5 separate regions of the Homo sapiens genome follow, and regions 1, 2, 3 and 4 are each linked to region 5. The links come from fine-mapping of genetic effects on plasma protein levels. Region 5 holds a variant in brackets. A gene starts in each other region. All regions are shown on their forward strands.

Region 1 (6,050 bases), not on the chromosome of region 5:
GCCGGAGGGGGCTCTGCCACCACGGAATTTCCAGGCCAGGCCTGCGAGGGAGCTGGCCTGGGGGAAGGCAGAGCTCTGCTCTGACCCTGGTGAGGCCTGAGACTTCCCATGCCGGGGACATGTGGTCAGCCTGCAGGAGCCTCTGGCCCTCTCCAGAAGTGGAAGGGCCCCTTGCTGGGGCATCTGCCGGGGGCCTCATCTCACTGCACGTCCCAACCTCATCCCCGAAATACCAGAACCCACGCAGTGGGTGCGGAACCCTCCCTGCCTCTGGGCGACCTCATCTGGCCCATATTCCCTGCGTCATACTCCCCGCCCAGTCTAGCTTCACCCTGGTGAGGTCTGGCCAAGGGGCTGCTGGGTTCCCATAGATAGGGTCCATGGGACTTTCCTGGATGGTGGCTGAACTTTCCCTGGGCAGCTGGACTTGCCTTGGCGATGGCTGTAGGTAGTCAGTGCCTACTTGGCTCCAAAGCTGGGGTTGGGCCTGGGGTGTCCCAAGCCGGCCTCTCTGGAGGCTCCTGAACCCCGGTCTCAGAGACATGACCCGGGGTGAAAGGCTGAGGGGTTCCTTCTCCCCTAGGTGCTATGTGTGGGAGGGGCCTGCGAGCCCTCTTACCCTGTGCTCCTACTCAGGCCTCACCCCAGGAGTGCCCTCCACCTCTGGGGCGGTGGGAGGCATCTGAGCAGCCTGCCCCTTCCAGGGTGGGGACGGACGGTGCCACCTCAGGCATCACCCCACGACTGGCCCCAGGGGACATGTGCTGGAGGCTCAGGGTACCTATGTGGCCTGATATCCGCCCCTCAGCTCCTCCGTCCCAGAATAGCACAGCCACAGCCACACTGGTTTAAATCATTTATCTCCATGTAGAGATTTGAGTACAAAAATAAACGGCAACAAAACAGAAGGAGTGTGAAATCCGGGGATCCACAGGGCTTCTGTCCTCCACCTTCCATGCAGCTGGGGGCTGCATCCTCTGTGGGGTGGCTTCATCCTCTGTGGGGTCTGTGGGGCCTGCTCCAAGTCATCAGCATTCCATGCCCACCTGGACCTGGTCCCAGACTTTCGGGGAAGCCCTCAGCCTGGGGCTCCTGGCACCCCCGTTGCGGCTGGGGAAGAGAGGTGTGGAATCCCCAGAGAAAGGGAAGGAAAGGCATGAGGGGCCTTCCCTGGGGGGAAGGTCACAGGCTGGGGGCTAAGATGACGGCCAGGAGGCTCAGGGCCAGCCCCAGGCTGAGGGCACTGTGGGCGAGGGCGGTGCGGGTGGGTGCAGCGTTGTGCAGCTTCTCATTGCACAGGTCCTCCTGGCAGCACTGGGTGGAGCTGGTGCCGCTGCTGACCTGGCCTTGCAGGGTGTAGCTGGGTGTGCACGACTCCGCACAGTCCTTCTTCACCAGATTCCCCCTCAGAGGCTCCACTGGGCACAGGTGAGTGTGGTCAGGCCAGGCAGCCACCTCTGCCCCCCACCTCCCCACAACCTTCCAGCCAACACCCACAACAGCCAGGGATGTCCCCCAGCCCCAGGGACACCTGGACAGATGCTACCCACCTGTGTTCGTGGTCTTGCAGAAGCGAGAGCTGGCCGGGCAGACCACAGAATGCTTGCAGTTGCTGGAGCTGGTGCACACGTGGCAGCGCAGGGTAAGGGCTGGCGGGGAGGGAGTCCGGCTCAGCGGGCCCAACAGAGGCCTCCTGGTGACTCAGCAGGGCCTGCTCCCCCACCTGCAGAGACCCCTCCTGGACAGAGGCCCTGCTGCCCTTGCCCTAGGCCCCCAAACCCGGGCTCTGGGTCCTGGCAGGGCATGTGCCCTGAGTGCAGCCTCAGGGGACATGTATTCCAGCCTGGGCCGGCTTGGAAGAGGTGTCCTGCCCTGCCCCTGTCTAGGGTGTGTTGCAAGCCTTTCCTCCAAGGTCTCAGGGAGCTCTGCGACTGCCAAGAGGACACTGGCTCTTGTCCCCACCCCAGGGGATGTCCCTGGAGGAGATGGCTATGTTTCTGAGGGCCTGACGGAGCTAAGGCCCCGGGGGCAGCCAGCTTGGCTGCTCTGAGCCTATGACAGGAAGGGCTTGGTGGCCTTTGGGCTGTCCTGGGCTGTGCTGGGGGAGACCTGGGGACCGGGAGGGGCTGGTGGCAGGGACTAGATGGCCGCTCTCCCAGTGAGAAGCATCTCAAGACAACCCCCTGCTCCACTCTCTCAGGGTCCGTGACTCCAGGAGTCAGTTCTAAGATCCTCAGATTCTGAAACATTGTAAATCTGACACTCGTTAAGATTCGGGCTCCATGTTGTTTTAAATTTGAAGAGTCTAGCACCCACAGTGTCGGGGTTCTCTGTGCCTAGATGTCGTCAGCTCCAGGCTCCTAGTATTTGGTGACCACACAGGCCACAGCCGCCCACCCGCCCGTCCCCTTGGCCCAGCCCCTCACCTGGCCCTGTAGCCACAGCCAGGGCTGCAAGGAGCAGCAATGCTGTCCTCATCTCTGATGTCGTCTGGGAGCAGTGCGGGCCCCTGCATTGCCAAGGCCTTATAGGCACGGGCTGGGCGGGGGTGGGCAGTCCGCCAGCCAGCGGCATTCTGCAGGGCTCTGTGCAAGCGTCAGCCCAGGACGGGCACCTGCCCCACCCTGCCTGGCCCACGCCCACCAGCCTGGCTGTCGCTGGGCGCTGCCCCTGCTGCCCCCCGCCAGGCAGAGGTCTGCCCTCCGCAACGGGGCCCAGTGGCCTCCTGGCCCTGCTGTTCCTGCTGCTGTGCCTCCATCTCTCCCACTTTCACTTCTCTGTCTCTGTGGGTCTTGTTCTCTCGCTGCCGTCCGTTCCTGGGTCACTTTGTCTCTGACCTGCCACCCGCTACCCCCCGCCCCCCACCCCCCACCATCCATCACCATCCTGTGTCTTTGTCCCTGCATTCCCCCCATAGTTCCCTCAATAGAGTTGCAGCCTGTGCCCGGTGCCCTGTGGGTGCCCGTGGGTGTCCAGGGCAGGGGAGGTAGGAAGGGCAGGTGCTGGTCCTACTCTCCTGGCTCTGGGCTCAGGGTTGCTGCCGGGGATGCAGAAGGTCCTTGAGCTGCAAGGGCTCGGGGTGGCTGTGGGCTGATGGGGTGTGTGAGGCAGAGGCAGAGGCAGAGGCCACTCCGAGGCAGGGAGGGCAGCTGGGGCAGCAGTGAGGTGAGCACTGGACAGAGTGAGGACTGTGAGGACCCGGCCCTCGAAGTTGCCTGGGGAGCCCTGTGGGCAGAAGGCCCGGGCTGTGGAGGCAGCAACTCCACCCTGCGTTGTGCAGGGAGAGACTGAGCCCTCCTGGTCTCCACCAGCCCTGCCTCCCGCCCTCCAGGGCCCCAGAAGCCCTCCCCGTGGGATTCCTTCCCCCACTCTCCAGGCCCCTCCTGCTACGTTGGGGGCAGCGCCATCCCGGCCACTTTGTAACTATTGCTCTAGGTGTCCCGGCTCCAGTCTCCCCAAAATCGTGAACTCTTTGGGGCTGGGCCCCAGCACCCAGGGCCTCAAAGCAGGTTCTTGGTCTGCTGCCCGTTGAGTGGAGGCCAGTCCCCGCCTTCACCCTCTTTATACTCACAGGAGGGACTTTCTTTCCCTGGAGACGGGGTCTCTGAGCACCCACCGCCTCGCGCAGGAGCCCACCTCTTGGGGCCCCCATCCACCTGCTCAGCCCAGCACGCTCTGCCGCTCGCCTGTGCTGGGCAGCACCCACCTGAGTGGTGTGGAGGGGCCCACAGACTTGCTTTGCCCCTGCCCTGGCTAGGCTGAAGGTGAGTGGGAGCCGGGGCACAGATGGAGGTCAGCCCTGGGCCCAGCCTCCTGCCGCCGCTGCCACGTGGCTGATGAACAGACAACAACAGGCCCAGGGCAGGGCAGGGCCGGTTCCGAGGAGGGTGGTCCTGGGCTGGGCTGAGGCTTTTGGGAGCACCGTGGGTACTGGGGCCAGTCAGGCCTGGGCTTGAGACAGACCCTCTGGCCCTTCCTCCCGGCATCTCTCCCTTGCTGAGCCCCACGTCTCAGATGCCGGGGATCCCAGCAAATGTCTCCTGAGAATGCTCCTGGCCGGGCTCTCCCTGACACAGTGCCGGGGCCTGGAGGATCCACCTACAGGAGGGGTTGCCTGGTGGTGCCTTTAGAAACCAGGGTGCAGGCGGGAGCCCCCTGGGGCAGCCCCACATTTGCATCTGGTGCCTGGCCCTGGCTGGAGCTTGGTGGGGACGTGTGTAGTCTCACTTGCCAAGGCAGGTGACCCAAAGGTCCATGCCCCCACCCAGAGAGAGGAGGTTTCCTCCAGCTCCAAGGCCCTGTGTCCATGGGTCACAGTGAGAGGCATGGGCAGCTTGGGGGAAGGTGCTTCCAGGGGCCTTGGGAGGCAGAGCTCAGGGCTTGGTGGCGGGGTGATGACTCGGTGGGCATGGCAGGTGGGGAGGGTGACTCACTGTGGCCAGGGGCATGAGAGCTGCTGGAAAAACAGGTTTGGAATTCCTGCTGGGTCTGGTGGAGCTGGAGGGTCCGGGATGTCAGGTGGCCTGAGAGTGGGTTCTGAGTGTGGGGCCATGGGGGAGTGTGCTCCCCACACCTGGGGCTGGAGGAGGGCCCTGCACACCTGGCTCACCCCCGTGGGACACCTCAGGCATCACTGTGGCTGCGTCCCTGCCAGGCATGGGAGCCGGAGCGGGGTTCCAGTTTTGTGGGATGAGGGCCTCTGACCTGGCAGGGCTGCCCACGAGGATGAGCTGCCCATCCCAGGTGGTCCTAGCAAAAGCATGAACAGCAGCCCTACACAGTTCACTTTCAGGAGAAAGCGGGTGCTTCTGATGCCAGGAGCCCTTGGACAGCTGAGCTTCTGGGGACAGTGCAGTCAGGGAGGGTTTCTTGTAGGCAGTGACCTGACTAGAGCCTCAGAGCCAGGGATTGGAATGTGGAGAGGAGACACTGTGGCCCCTCATGTCAGTCCCTGCCCAGTGCTTGTTCACTGGTGAGGAAGTGAGGGCCAGAGAGCTCCAGGCACGTTCTGGGGCAGAACCTGGTGGGGTCTCAAGCACTTCTCACTATCACCGCCAGCCTTTCCCCCCTCCTCCCTCCTCTGTTCTCTAGGGCCTGGGCCCTCCCCCACTCCACCCCTCCCACTCAGCCCCTGGAGCTGGGGCCCTGGGCCTGGTTGGTACCATCAGGGTATTGGCAGCAGAAATGACACCTGGGAGAGGCGACGAAGGGGCCTGGGGCAGGGAAAACCACCGCCCCACCCCGTTAGCCTTGCCCCCTGCTCCCTGAACCAGGAAACCCGGCACGGGGACAAGCCCAGGCTTCTGTCTGGAGCCGAAGTTCCTTGCTCATGCCCCTTCCCCCACCTTCTGCCCCCTCTACCTTATGCTGGGCCCCTAGGAACACACAAGGGTGTGGTGGCTCAGAGAGGGAAGCGCCTGGCTTAGGGCGGCACAGCACCGTACTCCAGGCTTGCACCAGCCCAGCCCTGGGCCCTGTCCTGGCTGAATGGGTGCCTGGTGGACAAGGCGGGGCCCCGGGCTGGAGAAGCTGGCTGAGTGGGTGCCCGGTGGACAAGGCGGGGCCCTGGGCTGGAGGAGCTGGCTGAGTGGGTGCCTGGTGGACAAGTCAGGGCCCTGGCCTGGAGGAGCTGACTGAGTGGGTGCCCGGTGGACAAGGCGGGGCCGCGGGCTGGAGGAGCTGCCTGGGCTGGAGGAGCTGCCTGGGCTGGAGGAGCTGGGAAGCCCCAGGGCACAAGGAAGGGCTTCTTCACCCTCAGGCTGTTACCTGGGCAAGCCAGAATCCCAGCCACACCCCAGGGGTTCCAAAATGCATCCGTCTGCCTTGAGGCACTCCATTCATTCATTCATTCACTCACTCATTCATTCATTCATTCTTCAACATTTTATAAGGACCAACCATATGCAAGGCACTTTGGATATAATGGAAACCAGGAGAGAAGAGAGACAGGGCCCAGGTCCCAGGGCCTGCAGACCAGTAGGGAGTGGGAACAGACAATTGCTGCCTCTGTGGGACCCACAGCAGGGGTGTGATGATGTGGAGGGTGAGGA
Region 2 (6,050 bases), not on the chromosome of region 5:
GAAAATCTGTTGTGTAGCGTAGCCACCTTCCTCAATTATCTTGTGTAGATCTTCTGGAGAACTTGCTGCAGCTTCTCCATCAGCACTTGCTGCTTTACTTTACACTTTTATGTTATGGAGATGGCTTCTTTCCTTAAATCTTGTGAACCGACCTCTGCTATCTTCAAACTTTTCTTACGCAGCTTCCTCACCTCTCAGCTTTCATAGAATTGAAAAAAGTTAGGGCCTTGCTCTGGATTAGGCTTTGGCTAAGGGGATGCTGTGGCTGTTTTGATTTTTTTATCCAAACCACTAACATTTTCTCCATATTAACAATAAGTCTGTTTCACTTACCATTTGTGTGTTTGCTGGAGTAGCTGTTTTAATTGCCTTCAATAACTTTTCCTTTGCATTCATAACTTGGCTAACTGGTAAAAGAGGCCTAGCTTTGGACCTTTCTTGGTTTTCAAACATGCCTTCCTCACTAAGGTTAATCATTTCTAGCTTTTTTTGATTTAAAGTGAGAGACATGACTCTTCTTTTCACTTAAACACTTAAAGGCCACTGTAAGATGATTAATTGGCCTCATTTCAGCATTGTTGTGTTCCAAGGGAGAGAAACAGAGAATGGCCGGTTGGGGGAGAAATCAGAACATATGTGACATTTATCGATCAAATTCACTGTCTTATGTGGGCACAGTTTATGGCACCCTGAGACAATTAGGAAAGTATCATCAAAGATCACTGATCACAGACCAACATAACAGATGTAATGATAATGAAAAAAATTGAAATATTGTGAATATTACCAAAATGTGACACAAAGACACATAGTGAGCACATGCTATAGGAAACATGCAGCCAATGTACTTGCTTGGTGCAGGGTTGCCACAAACCTTCAATTTGTAAAAAATGCAATGACTGCAAAGCACAATAAAACAAGGTATGCTTGTATTGTGGCTGTAATTGTTGTAGCTCCATAATATGTTTTAGTGACTGGTGGTATCCATTACCCTTCATTAGTCTACATTTTCAATTTTCCAGGTTACAAGTATTTTATTGTTCCATGTGAACCTAATGATCATTTTGTTAAGTTGCAAAAACAAACCCTTGTTTTTATCATAAAATGTTTTCAAAAATGCACAAAAGAACAGCAAATACTTTTATGGAGCCTACATACCCATCATCCAGATTCAACAATGAACCATTTTACAAGAATTCCTTCATGCATATCCCCACCCCTTTTTTGGCTGAAGTATTTTAAAGTAAATCCAACCGATCTTATACTTTACCTTTAAATACTTCAGTGTGCATCTCTAAAAACTAAGGACACTTTCTCACATAATGACAATCCTACTGTTACACCTAAGAAAATTAACTGCAGTTTCTTAACATCATCTAATATTCTATTTGCATCTTGTTTTTCTTATTGTCTCAAAAGTGACTCTATGGTTGTTGGTGCACATATTGCATTGGCTGTAATGTATCTGAAGTTTCTTTTAATCTAGAACAATCTCTCCAACTCTTTTTTATTCTCCTTTCCTCCCTCCTTCTTCTTCTTCATGCTATTGACTTGTTGAACAAAACAGACAAATTGTTCTTTAGAATGTCCCATGTTGCTTCCCTGTGATGTCTTTCATCTTCTTTGTCCTTCACATTTCCCATAGATGAATGCTAGCTGTAGAGGCTTGGTGAGGTTCATGCTCAACTGTCTTGGCAGGAGCCCTTCTTGAATGATGCTGTGTGTTTTGTGTTGCATCACCTCAGGAGGAACGGAGGTCCGCTTTACCCATTTTTAGCATTGTGGAGACAGATTAATGTGTTTTCGGTGTGTACCTGAATCCTCAAGTTGTAAACTTGTGTTTTCCCTCTTACAAACTGTAAATATACCACAGGGTGATGAAATGGCACCCTGTAAATATTCAGAAGCCATGGATAATCATTGCCAGAATCAATTATTTCATTAGGGTTTGCAAAACCCAGTGGGTTTTAATTTTAATTATATTTCAGGTATAAATTATGCTGACCAAGGTGAACACTTTGAGGAGGCTTCCTGCTTGGGGAAGAGCATATCTTTTAAAAAACATTTATTTATTTATTCTGTAGAAAAGTTTAGTCTATTTATCCAGATCTTTTAAAATGTCATTTAATAAAGTTTTAGGGTTTCCTTTCAGAAAATTTCTGTACATCTCTAGATTTATTTGTAGGTATTTTATATTTTATTCACTTTGATAATGTTGAATAGGATTTTTTTTTTTTACTATTAGGTTGTCTTAGCAGGTTTGGGCTGCTATAACAAATTACCATAGACTGGGTGGATTATAAACAGCAAATATTTATTTCTTACAGTTCTAGAGGCTGGGAAGTCCAAGATCAAGGCACCAGCAGATTCAGCATCTGGTGAGGACCAGTTTCTCTTCTCTGACAGTGCCTTCTAGCTGTGATCACACATTGCAGAAGGGCAAGGCAGCTCTTTGGGGTCTCTTATAAGGGCACTGGTTTCATTCATGAGGGGTCCATTCATGAGCATTAGGGAGGAGCACCAGGTAGAGAGGGAAAGTACCGTCCCTGGGGTCTGGACTTTTTGTGACTCTTCCCTCTTTTTGGGGAAAAGGACTTCAAGCTCAGGTTTTCTTTGGTGGGGTTGGGTATTGCTTCTTCCATATTCCAAGTCTCAGGACCCTCAGGGGCAGGTGCCAAGTGAGAGTGACCCCCAGAGGTAGAAAGGACCCAGCATCATTTCTGAGGACACCTGGTAGAGGAGGAGCCTGGACACTTGGCCTCCCATCCTGGCTCAGGGTATGGCCTTGACACATCTTCATCCTTGTTTCCTCCTTTGGACAATGGAGATGTTCAGACTAGGTGGTCTCTGAGGGCCCTGCCAGCTTTAGCCATCCCTCCCCACACCAGCTAAAGGGACTAATTCCTCCGAACTTTCATGGGTCAGATAGAGGCAGGGAAGGGACAGCCCCAGCCCTGGGAGGCAGGTCTCCTTACCTTCTTCCAGTTCCTTCACAGGAATCACACACTTGAAGCCACAGTGCAGGTAACAACACTTCCTTTCCCCCAGACAGTCCTGGTCTGTGTGACACTGGGGAGGATCGGACTTGAAGCAGCGTACGTTGTCAGCTGGGCAAACCCCTGCTTTCTCTATACCTAGTGGAGGAAGCCACAAGGTGATATGAGAACTCCAGCCCCAGAGGGCCCCTCAGGACCTCTCCCCAGCCCAGCCCCACCCAGCTCCACCATGTCTGCTCACCCTCTTTAACTCCTTCCACAGCCACCAGGGTCACAAGAACGAGAGACACCATGAGGACCAAGAAGCTGCTGGACCCCATGTTGCCAGGCAGGTGCTTGGCTGGGAGCTGGGCTGAGCCTGGCTTTATAGTGTTCCTGCTGGGCATGCCAGTGGGTGGAGCTGAAGGCTCAAAATGGCAAGGGAGGCTGCACTTCCCAGCTCTATTTGGAAATGGCCCCTTCTGAGGAGGGACTTGGGGCTTTCCCTAAGGCTCTGCACTGGAATAGATGAAGAAATCCAAGAGCGACCCTCGTTCTTCACACGAGGAGAAGAAATGGACACGTGATTGACCATTAGGCGCCACCAGGGCCAAACTATCTTATGGAAGGAGGAAAAGAAGCACAGAAAGGGCATGAAATTACTCAAGTTCACACACGAGGCAGTGGCAGGGCCAGACTTCCTCAACTCCACCGTGTTCTCTATCAGTCCCTCTTCATGCCTGATTCACCTGGGACCAAAATCTTCCCTCCTTCCTGTGCTGCCCCGGACTTGTTCTCAGTTCTCACCTCACCCCAAGGAAGAATCTGAATGGCAGTGCTTAAAATGTCTGTCCTGAACATTCACTCTCAGCCTTGCGCTCCAGCACCGTGTGCTCCTGCCCCCCGCCAATCTCATGTGGCCTGGAGGAAAGCAGATTTTGGACCTGTCACCAGCTGTGTGACTTTGAAAGCAGCTTCACCTTTCTAAGCCTCCGTTTCCTCATTCATACAATGAGCATAATAATTATACTGTATCATCTTCATAGGATTTGTTTTCCCTCCTCTGCCCCTGCATCCCCCAAATTCCTGGATTTGGAAGAAGACATGGACGTGTGTGCGTGTGTGTGTGTGTGTGTGTGTGTGTGTGTGTGTGACCAGGCTTTTGGGGTCCTTTCTTTGAATGAGTACTAAAGGGAGGAAAATCCTTCCTGTTGGAAAAGTTGCAGATATAAGCCCAGAAACTCCAGAAATTTGGTCCTGGCCCTGGTGAGAGAGAAATTCTGAGAAGATAAATCTAAGATGCTGATAAAAAGAGATGAGAGATGGACAGGGAGTAATTTAGAGGATATCTAGTCCTTCACTAAACTTTTTCCTGAGATCAGCCCCACTCATACCCAGGGTTATGTTACCACCCAATACATTCACCTTTCTGCCTAAGCTGGTCTGAATTGGATTTCTGTCATTTACTAACAGGACCCCTGAGTAATGCAAAGATTTGGGTTTGGGGTGTTCCACATCCTGAAGTGTGGAAGGGACTGAGTTGGGGTTAAGTGGAGGCAGGGAGGATACCTCCATTCCTGGAAGTGAGCCTACTCCTTATTAGGTGGTGAATCTTTGGTTACAATCTCACCAGTCATATCACTGGACTCAGATCATTTGGATACCAGGGATGGAATCTGGGAAGTTCATAAACAAATACTAGAATGTTGGAATGTATTGGCTATTTCCTCCTCCACCTTTTTATTATGAACTTTTTAAACATACAGAAAAATTGAAATAACAGAACAATGATACTTGTATACCTACAACTGGATTTAACAATTATTAATAGTTTGGGATATTTTAGAATACCTATAGCTACATTTGTTGAAATATTTGAAATGAAATTGAATACATTATGTTCCTATTTCCTAAATACATCAGCATGCAAATTCTAAGAATAAGGATATTCTTCAATATAATCACAAAGCCATTATCATATCTAAGATAATTAATAGTTTCTGCATGTCATCTCATAGCCAGTTCATATTTGTTTCTCCGGTTCTCCCCAAAATGTCATTTGTAATTGACTGTTGATGATACTTCTTTAAAAAAAGTATTGTAAAATAAATCCTACATATGAAAGAATGTAATCAACATTCTATACCTTTTGAAAAAGAATAATAAACACCTATGAACCTATCAATTTAGAATAGGACATTACCATCCCTACTTCAGAGGTAACCACTATCTTGAACTTTCTGTTAATCATCCTCATGTTTTCCTTTAAAGTTTTGCTCTCTTGCTATGGCTTGCTTAGTGATACGTGTTGTTTAATTTCGTGTAAGCGTAATTATGGCCTAAGTATTCTTTTGTATTTTGCATGCTTTGCTCAACACCGTGTTTTTTTAAAAAATTGTGGTAAGAAATATATACTATAAGACATGACCTCTTAACATATTTTTAAGTGCATACTAACAGTATTGTTAATTGTGGGCACAGTGTCATACAGTAGGTCTCTAGAACTTTTTCATCTTGCATGACTGAAACCCACTGAATAGCAACTCCCTATTCCCCCCACCCCCAGACCCTTGGAACCACCATTCTGTTTTCTGCTTCTATAAGTGACTACTTTAGACACTTCATAAAAGTGGAATTATGCCATATTTGTCCTTTTGTGACTGGCTTATTTTGCTTAGCATAATGTCCTTGAGGTTCACCCATGTTGTAGCATGAGATAGACTTTTCTTCTTTTTTATGGCTGAATAATATTCCATGGTATGCATATATATGTACATGTATATAATCTTTTTCCTTCCCTCATTTATCTGTCAATGGGTCAATGCACATTTAGGTTTCCATTTCTTGGCTATTGTGAATATTGCAGCAATGAACTTGCAGGTGCAAATATCTCTTTGGGATCCTGATTTAAATTCTTTTGGATAAATACCCAGAAGGGGGATTGCTGGATCATGTGATAGCTCTATTTTTAATTTTTTGAAGAACTTCCATACTGTTTTCCGTAGTGGCTATACTCCTTTAAATTCTCACTGACAGTGCACAAGGGTTCCAAATTCTCCACATTCTCACCGGTAC
Region 3 (6,050 bases), not on the chromosome of region 5:
TAGCGGCACGGGTGGGCGCCCTTCTCCCTCCCCTCCACCGCCACCTCTTGGCGGCTGGCTGCTTCCCCGCCAGCTTTACCCACGTCCTGCGACGGTCACGGATGCGACGCCCACTCACCTCCCTAGACCCCGCGCGCCCGGGTGGTGAGCGCCTGGCCTCCGCGAGCCCCACCCCGTGGGCGCGCCCTCCCGAGGTCCCTCCCTGGCCGTGGCCTCCCCACGCATTTCCTGGGAGGGTCGCGGCGACAGGCAGGGCAGGTGGGCGTCCTCCAGGCCGGCCGAGAGGGCCAGGGCTCTCTGAACTCTGTGCTGCGGACCCCTACGGTCCAGGCGGCCCAGCTGCGCGCGCAGTGCAGGTTCCGGGCAGAGCGCACAGGGTCGCCGCGTGCTCGCGGTGCGCGCTCTGGGACGAGTCTTCCTGGCGCGGGTTCCGGGACTCGGGCGCGCGCCCTCTGCTGGCCGTGCGGGCTCAGCATCGGGGGCCCCTCGCAGGTGCCCTCCCAGGGATAGGGGCACCTGCTGAGCCTTCACCACTGCGCTCCCAAAGAGCCTGGAGGCCTCATCCCCATTGTGCCGCTGGGGACGCTGCCAGAGATGCGGCGACTTCTTGCTCCGTCCCCCTGGTGAGGCCAAGGCCCTGCCCCCTTGGCTCCAATCGAGGCCCGGGTGAGGCCCTTGGAGGTCCGGCCATGACCCAGGGGACGGGCCCTAACCGGAAGCCACGCCGCCGGCCCGGTGCTGGCCAACGGGGAGGCCCGGGGTAGCCCTTCAAGGGGGCCTCTCTGGCAGCTTTCTCTGGTCGGGGCTGCTCCCCAGGGACAGCATTTAATTCCTGGTATTTCTGGGAGGGCGTAGAGGTAGGGGGTGGGTTCTGACATCTGGGCCCTTCATAGACAGAGGTGGGCTCTCACAGGGGTCCTAGGCGACCCCCGCCACTGCCCTGGTTACTCCCGCATGCTCCTCGGGTATGCCCAGCTGGTCTGACCACAGCCTGCTGCATACCGCTCCCACCCCAGCAGGCACAGGTGCCCACAAGACCCCACGGGCGTGACCCAGCTGATGTGTGGGGCCTTAGAACCCAAGACCTAGCTGGGCAGCGCTTAGATGGTGTGCAGCCCAGGAGACACCAGGGGACTGGGGCCTGGAGAGGGGCAGTGTCCAGGGGTGGCTCAGGCCCACAGCAGCCCGTGCTCCCCGTTGGCTCTGCCCACCTGCCGACAGGGGTGACAGTGGCACAGAGCACTGTGACTGTGATGGGACAGCCAGGGCCAGGAAGAGGGGGAAGCGAGCCTGGAAGTCAGGTCTCCTGGGTCCTGAGAACCCGGGGCTCCTCCGCTAATCTCAGCTGTCCCAAGGGGACAGTGGGCAGTTGTCAGAGGAGGTGACTGAAACCGTGGAGCTGTGTGGTACCAGCAGGCCCAGGTGCACACACCCAGGAAGACCCCTTGGGCTGGGCAGGCAGAGCCAGATGTATCCACCCTTGGAGGAAAGTGGATGCCAACTCTGAGCTTCCTTCCCTCTCTAGGGTGGGAGCGATGTCTCCAGGGTTTACAGGGGAGATTCTTAGCGGGAGATGTTCCCTGGGCTAGGGTACAGGTCCTGGTCTGAGATGCCAGGCTAGTTTGCATCAGGAAAGGGGCCCAGGAGGCATTTCTTCCCCTAAGTCTCTGTTTTCCTATCTGTGAAATGGGTCACAGAGGCTCTGGGTGAGAGGGAGGAGCAGGTGCCTAGAATGTGCTGTCCTTCAGCCTGGCTCTCCTGAAGGCCAGTTCTGTAGGGTGTCAGTGCCCAGGAAGGACAAAAGTCATGTCCACTCTTGGCTTAGTTATGTTTTATAAGCGTGGGGTATGGAAGGCAGAGGGCGCCCCTGGTGTGCTTCTCTCCCCTCAGACCCCATGAGTGAGCTGTGCCACAGCAGCAGGAAGCAGGGGGAGGTGATCACAGGTGGAGCCAGGCCCCGTCAGAGAGGAGGTGCCTGAGGAGCACCTTCCGCCCTGCCGCCCTGGGTTCAGAGTTCCGAGTTGCAGAGGTCTCGGAAGCAGCAGAAGATCAGGTGGGCGGCCCCGATGCTGTCGGGGTCGGTGGCCACACAGGAGCTGGAGCAGGAGCGGGTCACCACGGGGCTCTGGTTGAAGGGGTACTCTGCAGGGTGGGCCAGTGTCAGAACCCTCACTCCCCTGCAGCGCCTGCCTGCTGCTGCACTGCTCCCAGCCGCCGTCGCCTGACCTCACCCTCCCTGTGATCCCTGTTCCCAATAGTCCACATCTGTGAAGCCACCCAGGGCCCAGCCCTCCTCTGACTGTGACCTGTTCATGAATTATTAGGCCTTGTCAGACCTCTGAAGTGCCTGCGCTGAGATGGGAGCCCGAGCCCAGAGGCTGTGGCAACACCACCCAGTGGGTCTGTGTCAGAGCTGGGGTTTGAGCCCCCCAGGGTACCCCGGCCATTAAGCCCCACCCACCTCCAGCGCCTGGTGCCCCAGGACTGGGTCTCTGAGGGGGCTGTGCCACCCTCGTGGAAGGCACCCCTGCCAAGGTGTGGCAGCCTGTTCTGCCCATCCCACCTGCTGCCTTTTGGGCCGGGAGGAGCACCAGCAAAGGAGGGAGGCACTTGGGGGAGGTGGCCCTGACTCCAGTGCACCCAGGGCTGCCGTGGGGCCTGGCCTCACCTGCCTCCACCGTCACCAGCGTGGTCATGCAGGCTGTGTCCTCTGGCTTGCAGCGGGTAATGGTCCTGCAGGAAGCACTGGTCATGGGCTCCTTGCAGGTGTAGCACTTGAGGGCCTCACCTGGGTGAGGGATGGGGGCAGAACCTCATCACCTGACCTCGGTGGCCTCATCCTGGAACCAGGAGGCAGGGGCTGAAGGAGTCTCGCTGACATCTTTCAAGGCCCCGGGCAGCCCTTCAAGGGGCCTCTCTGGCAGCTTTCTCTAACTGAGCTGAGCCACAGACTTGAATGCTGCATCCCTCCACCAAGCCTCAGTCTCCCTTCCTGCAGAGTGGAGCCGTGACCCCTGTCCCAGGGTGAAGCTGGGCTCTGGGACCCAGGAGGCTCACTGAGAATGAGGAGGGTGAGCCTCATGGAGGCCTAAGGAGGCTCTCAGCCACAAAGCACCCCCAACAGCCCCATCCCCCTAGGAGGTGGGCAGACAAGCTCAGAGGCAGGGTCCCCACCAGCCTGCGGCCCACTCACCACAGCCCATGCTCCAGGCTGCCACGAGCAGCAGCTGCACAGCCCAGCGAGAGGCCATTGCTCCGTGCTCAGAAGTGATGAGAGGTAGCCAGCCTCACATCAAGGATTTATACCCAGGCCCTTGGGCACCGGCTTCTGGGCGGTGGCAGAACCGGCCGTGTGAGTCAGGAACGTGGTAAAGGGCCCAGTGGGGAGGCAGCTGGCAGGAACATGGCAGACGGGCAGGGAGCTGGATCTGGGAGCTCTGTCTGAGGACGATGGCCAGGCCTCTGCTTGCACACCTCCAACACTGGGGAACTCACTGTTCCTCAGCCATGTCCAGTGGTCCTGGGACAGCTCTGACAGAGAAGGCCTTTCCTGCTGAGCTCAGACTGCCCCTCTGATGAGCCCCCATGTCCTGGCTGTGCCTCTGGGGTTCACATAGGCCACCCAGCCCCAGCCTGGGGGACCCTTAAGACCCAGGTTCAGTGTAGCCTCTGCCCTTGTTGCTCTAGCCCCGCCTGGCACCCCTTCCCTGCAGCCTGGCCTGCAGCCCTCTCCACAGACCTCTACCTGGTCTGTGTACACCTGATACACACCTGCAAAGTAGAAACCAGAGGTAGGAAGCAGGTGTCAGGTGAGGGTAGCATGGGCCAGCTAGACCACTCTCAGGCTGACAAGGTTGGGCCCAGGAGTGGCCCCTCATCACTGCCAGCCCCTTCCCACTAATGGCCTTTAGACCAAACCTGAGTTTCTTGATTTTAGGCGCCTGACAATAAGGTTCTGCTCACCCTCCAGCCTCCTGGCCTGACTGTGTTGTCTGCTCTTTACTGCGTGCCCCCCACGACACCCTGTTCCACACGCATGCCTGCCTATGCCATACCGCTCAATGACCACATTGCCTGGTCTCCCATCTGATGTCCCACATCTTCCCCATGCTGTGAGACCCACTAAGGTGCCCCTCTCCACAGTCCTTCCAGGTATACCAGCCTCTCTGGTTTCTCTGTCCTGTGATGTCCCAATGGGTGGTTGTATAGATGGATGAGTTGATGGATGGATGGATGGGGGATGGATGAATGGGGGATGAATAGGCGATGGATAGGGGATGGATGGATAGATGGGTGGGGGATGGATGGGTAAATGAATGGGAGATGGATGGGTGGATGCATGAGTGGATGGGTGGATGGATGGGTAGATGGATTAGTGGGGGATGAATATGGGATGGATGGATGGATGGTAAGAGATGGATAGGAAATGGGTGAAGGATGTATGGGTGGATAAGTTGGGGATGAATGGAGGATGGGTGGGGGATGGATGCATAGATGGATGGATAGGTGGATGGATGGATGGATGGGTGGATGGATGGGTAGATGGATGAGTGGGGGATGAATATGGGATGGATGGGGGATGGATGGTTGGATGGATGGGGGATGGATGGGAAATGGGTGGAGGATGGATGGGTGGATGGGTGGGGGATGAATGGAGGATGGGTTGGGGATGGTTGGGTGGATGGATGGATGGGTGGATGGATGGGTAGCTGATGAGTGGGGGATGAATATGGGATGGATGGGTGGATGGTGGGAGATGGATGGGAAATGGGTGGAGGATGTATGGGTGGATGGGTCAGGGATGAATGAAGGATGGGTGGGGGATGGATGGATAGATGGATGGATGGGTGGATGGATGGGTGGATGGATGAGTGGGGGATGAATATGGAATGGATGAGGGATGGATGGGGAATGGGTGGAGGATGTATGGGTGGATGGGTGGGGGATGAGTGGAGGATGAGTGGGGGATGGATAGATGGCTGGATGGGTAGATGGATAGATGGATGGATGGGTGGATGGATGGGGGATGGATAGGAAATGGGTGGAGGATGTATGGGTGGATGGGTAGGGGATGAATAGAGGATGGGTGGGGGATGGATGGATAGATGGATGGATGGATAGATGGATGGATGGGTAGATGGATGAGTGGGGGATGAATATGGAATGGATGGGGGATGGATTGGATGGATGGATGGGGGATGAATGGGAAATGGGTGAAGGATATATGGGTGGATGGGTGGGGGATGAGTGGAGGATGGGTGGATGGATGGGTGGATGGATGAGTGGGGGATGAATATGGGATGGATAGATGGATGGATGGGTGGATAGATGGGGGATGGATGGGAAATGGGTGGAGGATGTATGGGTGGATGGGTGGGGGATGAGTGGAGGATGAGTGTGGGATGGATAGGTGGCTGGATGGGTAGATGGATAGATGGATGGATGGGTGGATGGATGGATGGGTGGATGGATGGGTAGATGGATAAGTGGAGGATGAATATGGGATGGATGGGGGATGGATGGGGAATGGGTGGAGGATGTATGGGTGGACGGGTGGGGGATGAGTGGAGGATGGGTGGGGGATGGATAGATGGATGGATGGGTGGATGGATGGATGGGTGGATGGATGGGTAGATGGATGAGTGAGGGATGAATATGGGATGGATGGGGGATGGATGGGGAATGGGTGGAGGATATATGGGTGGATGGGTGGGGGATGGATAGATGGATGGGTGGGGGATGGATAGATGGATGGGTGGGGGATGAATGGAGGATGGGTGGGGGATGGATAGATGGATGGATGGGTGGATGGATGGGTAGATGGATAAGTGGGGGATGGATGGGTGGATGGGTGGGGGATGGATGGGGAATGGGTGGAGGATGGATGGGTGGATGCGTGGGGGATGAGGGGAGGATGAGTGGATGGATGGGGACGGATGGGTGGATGGGCAGAGGATGGGTGGGTGGATGCATGGATGGATGTTGGATAGATGTGTGGATGGATGGATTTCAGAAGGATGGATGGATGGAGGATGGGTGGATAGGTGGGT
Region 4 (5,974 bases), not on the chromosome of region 5:
AACCTGGGAAGTGGAGGTTGCAGTAAGCCGAGATTGTACCACTGCACTCCAGCCTGGGCGACAGAGCAAGACTCCATTTCAAAAAAAAAAAAAAAAAGAAAAAGAAAAAATTAAGAACCTAAGAGACAGGCAAAGGGAGAGTCCAAAGGGGAGATTAAGAGAGTGAAACAGAAACAAAAATTCATTCTGAGAGAGACAGCAGTTGAGAGAGGAAAGAGTAAAACCAGGAAAAGGTTTGAGGGAAGCTAAGAGAAAGATGGAGAGGCCAAATGAGAGGGACTGAGTTTGCGTGTTTATTCATTCACCTAGTATCTGTAGAGCGCCTAATGTGTGTCACACACTTTAGTCTAAGCTGGAGACAAGCAGTAAACACAATTTCTATTCCGTAGGAAGAGACAGACAAGAAACCAGCAAACAAGTAGAATACATTGCATGTCAGATGCTGATAAATGTTATGGAGAAAAGGAAAGCCAGGCAGTGAGATGTTGGGGAGTTAGGAGATTTAAAATCAGGGAATTGGGAGAGGTCTTGCTGGAAAGGTAATATTGAGCAAAGTCTGAGGGAGGAAAAAGAGGATGCCATGCAGTACCTGGGTTGGAGAGTGTTCCAGGCAGAGGGGACCGTAAGTGCAAAGTCCCTGATGCCGAGTGATCAATGGGGAAAGGGGTGATAAAAGAGTCAGAGTGATTAATGGGGTCATAGCAGATAGGGCTTTGTAAGCCACAGTTAGCACTTTGGTTTTTATTCTAGATGAAATTTCTTTCTTTTCTTTTTTTTAATATTTATTGTTTTTTTTGAGACGGAGTTTTGCTCTTGTTGCCCATGCTGGAGTGCAATGGCATGATCTTGGCTCACTGCAACCTCTGCTTCCCAGGTTCAAGCAATCCTCCCATCTCAGCCTCCCGAGCAGCTGGGACTACAGGTGTTCTTCACCATGCCCAGCTATTTTTTTTGAGTTGGAGTTTCGCTCTTGTCACCCAGGCTGGAGTCCAGTGGTGCGATCTCGGTTCACTGCAACCTCTGCCTCCCGGGTTCAAGCGATTCTCCTGCCTCAGCCTCCCAAGTAGCTGGGATTACAGGTACCTGCCACCACACCCGGCTGAGTTTTGTATGTTTCATAGAGACGAAGTTTAACCATGTTGGCCAGGCTGGTCTCAAACTCCTGACCTCAAGTGATCCACCCGCCTGGGCCCCCCAAAGTGCTGGGATTACAGGTGTGAGCCATTGTGCCTGGCCCTTGCCAACTTTTTAATGGGGTTGTTTTCTGCTTGTTGAAATGTTTAGTTTCTTTATATATTCTGGATAGTAGATCTTTGTTGGATGCATAGTTTGTGAATATTTTCTTCCATTCTTTTTTTTTGAGACGGAGTCTCACTCTGTACCCCAGGCTGGAGTGCAGTGGCGCGATCTCGGCTCACTGCAAGCTCCGTCTCCCGGGTTCACACCATTCTCCTGCCTCAGCCTCCTGAGTAGCTGGGATTACAGGTGCCCGCCACTGCGCCCGGCTAATTTTTTGTATTTTTAGTAGAGACGGGGTTTCACTGTGGTCTCGATCTCCTGACCTCATGATCCACCCGCCTTGGCCTCCCAAGAGTGCTGGGATTACAGGCGTGAGCCACCGCGCCTGGCCTTTCTTCCATTCTTCAGTTGTCTGTCTGTTGATAGTTGCTTTTGCTTTTGCTGTGCAGAAGCTCTTTAGTTTAATGAGGTCCCACTTAACAATTTTTGTTTTTGTTGCTTTTGAGGACTTAGTCAAGAATTCTTTACCAAGGCTGATATCCAGAATAGTATTTCTCCTGCGGTTTCTTCTATGATTTTTATGGTTTGAAGTCTTACATTTAAATCTTTAACCCATCTTGAGTTAATTTTTTTTATATGGTGAAAGGTAGGGGTCCAGTTTCATTCTCTTGCATAAGGCTAGCCAGTTATCCCAGCGCCACTTAAATGAAATTTCAGCTGAGATTTGAAAGATACACATACAGGAACCAGGGCAGAATTGAGTTCTGGGCTGCAGGCTCTGGATTCAGTTCATTCATTTGTTCAATGTCTCTCTATCATTCATTCTCCAAGCATTTAGAGAGGCCTACTTTGTCCCAGGCTTGTCCTGGGTGTACTAGAGAGACCAAAGTGGAAAAGACCCTCCCCTCAGCTCTGGAGGAAGAAAACATTTCAGGGTGGGGTGAGGTCCTGCCCTCCTGCAGGTGGGGTAATCCTGCCAGGGTGACCTTGGTCAGCCATAAACTTGGGGAATGAGTGGGTGACAGGCTGGGGAGGGGCTGCCAGCAAGGAGGAAGGAGCTGGAGAGTGTGGAGGTGGGAGTGGGGGGAGAAAGGGCAGACCCCCTTCAATTTTCTGTCTTTTCTGTGGTGTGAAAGGCCCTGGCTCCCCGCTGGCTCTGAGCTCTGACTCCAGGCAGGCCGGGGAGAGAACAGTGGATGGGCCAAGACAGGTGGCCCTGTCATGTGATGTGTGCCCAGGGACTACTCAGCCCTCACTTTTAGAACGGTTTCCGGAAGTGATGGGAGGGATTGGGCAGGGCAGCTAAATATAGTCCTGGGGCCATGGCTCAGTCTGGGAGGGTCTTCCGCTGAGCACTGTGTGCCCATCACGCGTGGTGTCCACTGCCAGCTGCCCCTGTGAGTCCCTGTCCTTGCTTGGAGCCTGCTGCTTGTCTCAGATCCTTGGACCCAGCCCTGACCCCAGTCCAGCTAAGCTCAACCCTGACCGGTCCTCCTTCGAGACTCTTTCAGCCTAAGATCTCCAACCAGACCTGTGAGTCCCGTGGGCTGGAGAGAGGGGGAGGGGAGGTCTGGGTATCTTGGTAAAGTGAGGGAGGGGAGTCTCGGAGTGGGGGCTCTGGAGAATTTGGGTCCGGGACTAAGGTCAGAGGCTGAGGCCTGGGGCTAAGGCGAGGGCAAGGACAGTGGGCTAGAATCTGGGCTTGTGTTCAGGAACTGGGGTTGACTGATAGGGCATATTTTTGGGGTTGGAGCTGAGAATTGCAGTGGAGGCTGCTTTTGGGCCTGAGACCGAGTTCCTCTTTCCCCTTGGCCGTCAGAGTCCCATCCAGTGTAGGATGTGAGGTCTTTACAGGCTGGGGCTTCTCCCTGCGGGGCGGCGGGCCCGGCCTGGGCTAGGGCTGGGCCAGGGCTGGGCCGGGAGCGCGGCGCCGCGGGGTCCCCCTAACCTACTCCTCCTCCACCCAGGCCCGCCATGTCGGCTGCGCCCGGCCTCCTGCACCAGGAGCTGTCCTGCCCGCTGTGCCTGCAGCTGTTCGACGCGCCCGTGACAGCCGAGTGCGGCCACAGTTTCTGCCGCGCCTGCCTAGGCCGCGTGGCCGGGGAGCCGGCGGCGGATGGCACCGTTCTCTGCCCCTGCTGCCAGGCCCCCACGCGGCCGCAGGCACTCAGCACCAACCTGCAGCTGGCGCGCCTGGTGGAGGGGCTGGCCCAGGTGCCGCAGGGCCACTGCGAGGAGCACCTGGACCCGCTGAGCATCTACTGCGAGCAGGACCGCGCGCTGGTGTGCGGAGTGTGCGCCTCACTCGGCTCGCACCGCGGTCATCGCCTCCTGCCTGCCGCCGAGGCCCACGCACGCCTCAAGGTGCGGGATCCGCGCGCATCGTGGTCGGAGGGGCTGTTCGGTGGCACGGGGCCGATGGGGAGGTCGCTGCAGTGATTTGGATTCTGAGTCTCTAGAGAGGCTCACGAGCTCCTGGAGTTGCGGGGGGCGGGGGCGGGGCGAAGCAGCCAGGAAAGAGGGTCTGAGGAGCTTAAGGCGGGGCTGGCAGAGGAAAGCCGCGCAGGGATGGAGCCTGGCGATAAGGGCGCTGAGCAAACGTAGGTTTCCCGGCCTTAGTCCCTAGAGGAAACTGGAGATGGGCGGGCGGAGCCCCAGGGCGGGTCTGATGGGCCGGGCGGAGCCAGGCGGAGCAGGGACTGACCAGCCCCTGCGGCCCACGCTCGCATTCCTGCACCCGGTGGGCCGTTCGGGCTGGCTCCCTGCTCGGCGCTGGCCCACTTTGGACTGGAGGCGCGGCGTTCGGGACCGAGCCAGGCGGCCGGGGCAGGGTTGTCCCCTTGTGCTCAGCGGAGGCCCACGCACCCCTGAAGCTGCGGAACTTGGGCTGGCCTGACGGTCCCCAGGCGGGGCCTCACCAGAAGGGAGACTGTAAGGGCTAGGCAGCCGGGATCTGCACTTATGTGTGCGGGCCCAGGGTGGCACCGAGAGCCCCGTCCAGGATGTTTTTCTGGGTGGAGCTGGAAGTCCCGAAAGCCTTGGGAGCCCACACGCAGTTGTGCGCGTCCCGAAGTACCCAGCAGAGACACCCAGACAGAGGCAAATAGAGACGAACGCACACTGGCTGGTGCGTGTCATCCGTGTGGCAAAAGCACACACGTATAGCTACCGGCGGGCACGTGTGCGCGCAGCCCCAGTAAAGTCTGCCATGAATATTTATTGGGCAGTGGAAGAATAAATGACAGGTGCAGGGGCTGGAGGAGGCGGGGTCTGGAGGCACGGAGGCGTCCTTGGTCCCCGAGGTGGAGACACTGCTGTTGTCTTACGCGACTGGTGCGCGCGTGGGGCTGGCTTCACAGGCGTTGCATTACTCCTTTTGCCTTGACCCGCCTCCTAGAAGGGGTAGACCACCGTCCTTTCGTTGGTATTCGAGGCCCCCAGACTTCCCAGGGACCCAGCCTCTCAGTCCTGCCTGGCCCAGTTCAGCCCAGTCCTAGCTGGTGGTCTCCTAGCTCAGGGCAGGAGCCTCCTCCCGGGACCCCTCCCATCCCAGCACACCTGTGCTTAAGACCCCAACCTCAGGGCAACCCGCTCGGATCCCCTTCCATGCTGTGGAAGCTTTGTTCTTTTGCTCTTTGCAATAAATCTTGCTGCCGCTAAAAAAAAAACAAAAAACAAACAAACAAAAAAAACCCAACCTCGCCCAACCTTGCCCGTCTTTATCTGCGAAGAAAGCACAGAACCCATGAAACGGAACAGGGCCCAGGCAGCCCAGGAGCCTGGAAGGGGGCAGTGGGGCGAGATGCAGCCCACCAGGGTTCGCGGCAGCCCAGCCCTTCGCCCCCGGGAGGGGCTGGCCGGAGGTCTGAGGGAGGACCCCAGGAGGGACCCTGAAGGAGGGGAACAGGAAGGCTCTGGGCGGGACCTGACGCGTGGGTCCTTGGCGAGGAAGCGGGGTTGGGTCCCGAGATCACGTACCAGCTCAGAGTGGCCCTCACGCAGCCCGCTGCAGCCGTGCGGCCTCCTCCAACATGCGCATGTCGCGCAGCACGGCCACGACGAGCTCGGCTGCGTAGTCCTCGTAGTAGGAGGCGACCAGCTTGTCGGTGAGGTCCACGATATCTAGCTGCCCGAGCGCGCCCCGCGGGATGCGCTCAAAGCCCTCGCGCAGCGGCACCGTCCCCAGCTTCATCTTGAACTTCTTGAGCTCCTCCGGTGTCAGGTTCTCCAGCACCTTCAGGATGGCCTCGCGCTTCGTTCCCATGGCTCAGCCCTGCGCCTCTGAGCCTCCGAGGGCCTGGAGCCATCAGGTCCTACCTTTCCTGCAGCAGGTGGAGCTGCCGCCCCCGGGGATGTCCCGGGAAGGAGACTGATCTGGCAGCTCCTATTCAACCCTGTGGCTCCTGCTGGGAGGGGACTCTGCAAACACCGCCTAGAGGGTCCCCCAGTTTCCCCTGGGAGAGTGGGGGCGCCAAATTGTTGAGGTGGGGATTGCTGTTCCCAATCTGCAGAGGAGGAAACAGGTTGCAAGTCATTGAGGCAGGAATGGAACTGATTCCATGGTCAGGCACCTCCCAGCAAAGAAGTGGCTTTGTAGCCTGGCATGGTTGCTCATGCTTGTAGTGCCAGCTACTCGGGAGGCTGAAGCAAAAGGATTGCTTGAGCCTAGGAGTTCGAGTTGTGATTCTGCCACTGCACTCCAGCCTAGGCAATCCTGTCTCCAAAAAAAAAAAAA
Region 5 (6,050 bases):
ATATTAACCTTGCCCACACTCTGAATATTGCCTGGCAATCCCTTTCATCATACCTAGGTGGTTTCTTTTACCAGACCCCTCAGCTGGAATTTTCAGACCTTTCCCTTTTCAGATCTTTCTAAGCCTCCTGCTTCACTCCCTCCCCATCTTCCTTTTAGTAGATCACTTTACTTCCTTCTTTGTTAAGATTGGGAAGTGATTCAAAAAGAATGAGGAGTCAGGCTACCAAGATTACAGTTAGTCTATTCATGTGGATGAAAAAATTTCCTCCATATCATTATCATACTTGTAGGTGTCAGTGTTGCAAAAGTCAGGGATGAAGTTGTTTACATTAGAGAGTTAGCAATTTATAGGAAAGGGCTCAAGGCTTCATTGATTTGGAAGACTAGGTAGAATCTTCTTCCTCATTTTTAGCTTATCTCAGGGTTGTAAAGATTTTTGTTTTTCCTCTCCAATGGTGCGACTTTATATGCTTAGTCATAATGGTGGTTGGGCAAGGAGTCAGTTTTGTTGTCTCCATAGGGGCCAACGGATGTGAATTCTCCTAACTTTGTTTCTAAAAGGAATCAACTAGGTCATGGACCACTAACATACAGATTCCTGGGTCCCATCTACTAGAAATTTGGATTTAGTTGATCTGGGATAGAGGCCATCAGTTTGCTTTTTAAATAATTACCATAGGTGATTCTGATGCAGCTCATCCTAGGAACCTCTTTTAAAAACATGGAGGTAATTGTATTTTTGCTGAATTTTAATCTCCTTTTTGTTTCAAGAGTATATGAGGTATTCTTTTCCTTTCCAAGACTGATTTCTCTATGTGTATATTTGATTCAATTTCTGTCATTCCTTCTAGGTCCTTGATCCAACAACGATTCCTTTCTCTGTATCAACAGATTCTTACTTTCTATAAATCACCTTCCACTTGACTTAGAACTGTTATTCACATTCAGTAAATTTTTATTGCATGCTGCCTGTGTTTCCAGCATATATTTTAATTTCTTCCTTTATAAAGGATTTTTCTTTCTTCCTTGCCTACTCTCTTATTTCCTCTTTACTACAAACTTTTTAAAGAATCTTTTCACACTGATATTTAATAAGAATTATAACAACAAGTAGTAATAAAGATAGCCACTAATATTTATTAGATGATTACTGTGGACCAGACACTTTTCTAAGTACACTATATATATTAACTATGTAGCAGACAGTTCACAAATTAATTAAAAATATATATATTAGGATCTGTTTCTGGGCTATTTATTGTTATATTGATCTGTATTATCTACTCTTCTGCCAATATGCTATCTGGCAGAAGAGTATTTATAATAACTTTATAAAATGCATTTTATCTTCCATTACTTAGTGAAATTCCCTCTCTTTGGGTTCTAGAACACCATTTTCTCTGCCTCTCCTCCAACTTTGATTCATCTTTATCAGTGTCCTTCACTGACCTTTCTTCTCCGCCTCCTTCATGTGATTCTATTTAAAGCCCTTTACAGCCTGCCTCCAACTTGCTTTTCCAGCTGCAGTTCCTGATACTGGTTTTTCTACATGCTTCAGCCAAAGACATATACTCTTTGATCCCTGAGAACACTATTTCCTCAGTGTCTTTGCACATGGAGTTCACTTCTCTGCTTGTGAAGTCTATGAATATTGCATGGCTGATTTGTCACAATTTTAAGTCTTCAACATCTGGAGTGTTCTGGCAAGAATTTGTAGGTAAGGACAAACCAAGGTGGGTGGTGATGCTCAGGAGCCCTTTGTTTCTAGGGTAGAGCACACAGAGTCAGGGAGTCTGAGAGAACAGGAGGGGTAGAGGAAGAGGGCTGAGACAGGCTATTGAAGGAATTGGGTATCAGATACTTATCTTTCAAAAGATACCAGACTGTGTGTGATTGTTTATTATTAGTCCCTGGTGACCTACAAAGTAAGGCATGCATTAAGGAGGTCAAGTCAGAAAATGCCACCCTCTGGAATTGAAACTAATGAGAACTGTTAAATGTGATGAAATAAATAAAATGTGAAGAGATGAGTTATCTGCAGCAGGAGTCCACCCTTGGAAATTAAGTGCTGCTAATGAGCAGGGTGTTCCTCAAGTCTCTCTCAAGACATTAAGTTTGGTTGCATTGAAGCAGGAAAGGGGGAGTCTGAGGATGAGTACTAGTTGGTGTGTCTCCAGCAGTGTCCAGAAGAGTGGATTGCACCAGTCCTAGTTGTTTGACTGTAGTTGTTTAGAGAAAAATATTACTGAAGCACAAGACAGTGTTATGTTAGCAAACACATATGTTTTGGAGTTAGACAGATTTAGGTATAAAACCTGACTTTACTAATATAATATA[C/T]TTGACCTTTTAAAGTCTCAGTTTGCTCTTCAGTAAAATAACATTTATAACCACAGGGTTGCTATGAGAATGAAATTAAACAATAAATAAATATATGTCAAGTATATAGCACATAATGTAATGTTCCCAGTTCATAAGATGTTCAATAACAATGCTGCTTTTGTATTTTTCTATCCCTTTTAGGAAAAATTTTTGAATCATCAGATTACCATAGCACAACCTTGGAGAATAAAACTCTTTTGCTCTGAAGCTCATCTAATAACCTGATATCTCTCAAATGAATCTATCCAATGACAGGGAATACCCCATGTTAAACAGCTGATTCTTGTTCTGAATACGTTTATTATCTTGTAGTTAGTAAATAAATCAATTGGACCCTTAAGACTTTGCTTAGAGTGAATCTGTCTCCCAGAGCTTGATCACATTTGAATGTACAGACAAAAACTAACAAAAGTGAGATCCATCTGGGGATGAGGTATTGGGATTCTGTAAGATCCTGCCTGAAACAGCCCACCTCTTTCTCTTTTCTTATTTTAGCTGTAACATTATGGTTCTTAAGTTTCTAGAGTCATAACAAGGAAAAGAGAAACATTGTGAAAAACTTGGCTTAACTATATAACTAAGCATTTATTGGGAATTTGTTTGCTTTCTCTTATTAGAAAAATTTTCTTGCCCCTTACCCCTTGGAAGGCAAAGAATAAGGTTGGGGTGTTGCCCAGAAAAAGGGTCAGGGTTTGGTTCTCATTCTTATATACCCAGAAATGCACTCATATCAGTGCCCCAGAGTTGATCAGACTCAGGAAAACTGTTTCATTGTAACTGAACTCATCAGGGACTGAAGTATAAAAACCAGAGTGCCATTTTATTAATTTACAGTCAGAAATGCATTATCAGAAACACTGGGTATTTATATTAATCTTGCTGATGAATGCTTTCTCCTTTTGGGAAAATTATGGAAAGCCAAATTTTCTTTTTTTAAAAAATTTTATTATTATTATACTTTAAGTTTTAGGGTCCATGTGCACAACGTGCAGGTTTGTTACATATGTATACATGTGCCATGTTACTGTGCTGCATCCATTAACTCGTCATTTAGCATTAGGTATATCTCCTAATGCTATCCCTCCCCTCTACCCCCACCCCACAGCAGTCCCCAGTGTGTGATGTTCCCCTTCCTGTGTCCAAGTGTTCTCATTGTTCAATTCCCACCTATGAGTGAGAATATGCGGTGTTTGGTTTTTTGTCCTTGCAATAGTTTGCTGAGAATGATGGTTTCCAGCTTCATCCATGTCCCTACAAAGGACATGAACTCATCATTTTTTATGGCTGCATAGTATTCCATGGTGTATATGTGCCACATTTTCTTAATCCAGTCTATCATTGATGGACATTTGGGTTGGTTCCAAGTCTTTGCTATTGTAAATAGTGCCGCAGTAAACATAATGTGTATGTGTGTCTTTATAGCAGCATGATTTATAATCCTTTGGGTATATACCCAGTAATGGGATGGCTGGGTCAAATGGTATTTCTAGTTCTAGATCCCTGAGGAATCGCCACACTGACTTCCACAATGGTTGAACTAGTTTACAGTTCCACCAGCAGTGTAAAAGTGTTCCTATTTCTCCACATCCTCTCCAGCACCTGTTGTTTCCTGACTTTTTAATGATTGCCATTCTAACTGGTGTGAGATGGTATCTCATTGTGGTTTTGATTTGCATTTCTCTGATGGCCACTGATGATGAGCATTTTTTCATGTGTTTTTTGGCTGCATAAATGTCTTCTTTTGAGAAGTGTCTGTTCATATCCTTCACCCACTTTTTGATGGGGTTGTTTTTTTTTTTCTTGTAAATTTGTTTGAGTTCATTGTAGATTCTGGATATTAGCCCTTTGTCAGATGAGTAGGTTGCAAAAATTTTCTCCCATTCTGTAGGTTGCCTATTCACTCTGATGGTAGTTTCTTTTGCTGTGCAGAAGCTCTTTAGTTTAATTAGATCCCATTTGTCAATTTTGAGAAAGCCAAATTTTCTAGAAGGCCCCTTGGTGTGTTTGAAGTCTGTGGCAGAGGGTGTGTTGTGTGGTTCAGCTGATGAATATCATTAGGCACTCATGTGGTGAGACATTTATTTAAAAGACTAGGACATGCTGGACCAGATACACCAGTGGACTAGCTTGTCAGAACACTCTCCCTTGAGCAGTCCTTGATGGGCATTCTAACATTGTTCTTTGTGTTCTCCTTTTTCTTACAAAATAATTTAAGATTTACAAGTAAGTGTAGATTTACAAGTCAGTGAATGATATAATGAATACCATCTTCTTAAGAAAACTTTTGGTATTGTTTACTCGATCTCAGTTCCATTTTCTTCCATCCTTCCAGAGGTACACACTGTCTTGAATTTGCTGTTTATCATTCCCATAAAGATTTTTACATTTACCAAATATGTATTAACCACAAACAATATATGGTATTGTTATGTATATTGTAAACCTATATAAATGGTATCACACCATGTATACTTGTTTTGCAACCTTTTCACTTGGCATTACACTTTTGGAATTTGTCCATGTTGATATATACGTACCTGTAGCTCATGAATTTTAACTGCTATATAGCATTTTAGTGTGTGGGTATATTACAATTTATCCATTCTTCTATTGAACTTTTAGGTTGTTTGTAACATTTTGCTGTTACAGACTTGTCTGTGGTTGCCAGATTTCCTCTTAATTAGGTATCAGTTCAGACTCCTGCTGCTCAGTATCCTCCCGACACTGGATATTGCCAGACTTTAGTTTTTTTCTGATCCGATGGGTATGAAATGAATTTCATTGTGTTTTAATTATCTATTTCCCTGAGCATTGTTTTAAAAATGTCACTTTGCCATTCAGATTACCTTTGGTGAATTTTCTTTTTATAAGTTTTGCTGTTTCTTTTTAATTTTTAATTTTTATAAATTTTGGTGAATTTTCTAAGTTTTGCTGTTTTTTAAATTTTTAATTTTTATAAGTTATTTACATAATCCGGCTATTGATCATCTGTTGTTTATAGGCATTTCAAAAATGTTCTTGGACTCTGTGGTTTGTCCTTTTTACTTTTTGAGATTGTCTTTGGATTTACAGACATTTGTAATTTAATTATAGTAAAAGTCATGAGTCTTTCCTTGGTGGTTTGTATATTTCTTGTTTAAAGAATCTGCACTTATTTCAAAGTCATAAAGATATTCTCCTATATTTTCTTTAAAAATTTTTAAAAGTTTGGCTTATCACAGTTAGGTTTTTATTTACTTGGAAGTGATTTTTGTAAATGGTGTGAAATAGAGATAATTTTTTTCCTATGGAAAATTTATTACCTTGGCACCATTTATTGAAAGAGTTGCCTCTCTCCACTGATAAGCAAAACCACTGCTCTTGTATATCAAGTATGCATGGATCTGTTTCTGGAGTCACATTGCTCTGTATATCTGTTCCTACAACAATACTGCACTGTTTTAAATCATATAACTTTGTAATATATTTTGATATCTGATGAGATGAAACTCCTCCCCTTCTGTATCTTGGTGGCTCACATAATGCCAGCACTTTGGGAGGCCGAGGCGGGCAGATCACCTGAGGTCAGGAGTTCGAGACCAGCCTGGCCAACATGGTGAAACCCTGCCTACTAAAAATACAAACATTAGCTGGATGTGGTGCTGCCTGCCTGTAATCCCAGGAGACTGA

Which allele goes with the higher level. Positions count from the first base shown, and alleles are read on the strand shown. Strength reflects both the effect of a copy and how common the allele is.
As copies of C replace T in region 5, the plasma level of the protein whose gene starts at base 2,501 in region 1 goes down (weak association).
For the plasma level of the protein whose gene starts at base 3,334 in region 2, allele C in region 5 goes with a lower level than allele T (moderate association).
As copies of T replace C in region 5, the plasma level of the protein whose gene starts at base 3,272 in region 3 goes up (weak association).
With allele T in place of C in region 5, the plasma level of the protein whose gene starts at base 5,610 in region 4 is higher (moderate association).

Evidence for each region. PIP is the posterior inclusion probability: the model's chance that the variant is causal. The UK Biobank Pharma Proteomics Project read protein levels with antibody pairs (Olink). The fine-mapping took linkage between variants from a reference panel, not from the people measured, so its PIPs are less certain.
Region 1: it holds the start of LY6D, and the variant in region 5 is fine-mapped to the plasma level of the LY6D protein (UK Biobank, PIP above 0.99).
Region 2: WFDC12 starts here. The variant in region 5 is fine-mapped to the plasma level of the WFDC12 protein (UK Biobank, PIP above 0.99).
Region 3: it holds the start of SLURP1, and the variant in region 5 is fine-mapped to the plasma level of the SLURP1 protein (UK Biobank, PIP above 0.99).
Region 4: PYDC1 starts here. The variant in region 5 is fine-mapped to the plasma level of the PYDC1 protein (UK Biobank, PIP above 0.99).

The regions. Positions count from the first base shown.
Region 1 is chr8:142,784,039-142,790,088 of GRCh38, forward strand. LY6D (lymphocyte antigen 6 family member D) reads right to left here and starts at 2,501. Exons shown (of 3, transcript NM_003695.3): 1 at 2,427-2,501; 2 at 1,551-1,649; 3 at 844-1,418. The coding sequence starts at 2,478. The coding sequence ends at 1,183.
Region 2 is chr20:45,121,132-45,127,181 of GRCh38, forward strand. WFDC12 (WAP four-disulfide core domain 12) reads right to left here and starts at 3,334. Exons shown (of 3, transcript NM_080869.2): 1 at 3,238-3,334; 2 at 2,976-3,134; 3 at 2,294-2,812. The coding sequence starts at 3,316. The coding sequence ends at 2,715.
Region 3 is chr8:142,739,135-142,745,184 of GRCh38, forward strand. SLURP1 (secreted LY6/PLAUR domain containing 1) reads right to left here and starts at 3,272. Exons shown (of 3, transcript NM_020427.3): 1 at 3,194-3,272; 2 at 2,669-2,788; 3 at 1,815-2,142. The coding sequence starts at 3,251. The coding sequence ends at 2,009. RefSeq lists silencers at 70-349, 390-469.
Region 4 is chr16:31,211,526-31,217,499 of GRCh38, forward strand. PYDC1 (pyrin domain containing 1) reads right to left here and starts at 5,610. Exons shown (of 2, transcript NM_152901.4): 1 at 5,218-5,610; 2 at 4,437-4,632. The coding sequence starts at 5,503. The coding sequence ends at 5,234. It overlaps TRIM72 (tripartite motif containing 72), which reads left to right and starts at 2,594. Exons shown (of 7, transcript NM_001008274.4): 1 at 2,594-2,772; 2 at 3,207-3,603. The coding sequence starts at 3,214. RefSeq lists enhancers at 2,085-3,000, 3,001-3,915, 4,831-5,745.
Region 5 is chr1:152,204,337-152,210,386 of GRCh38, forward strand. The region is part of intron 1 of CCDST (cervical cancer associated DHX9 suppressive transcript); the gene reads left to right. Among named protein-coding and RNA genes, the nearest start is that of HRNR, 17 kb to the right of the region's middle. The variant C/T (reference allele first, on the strand shown) is at 2,340.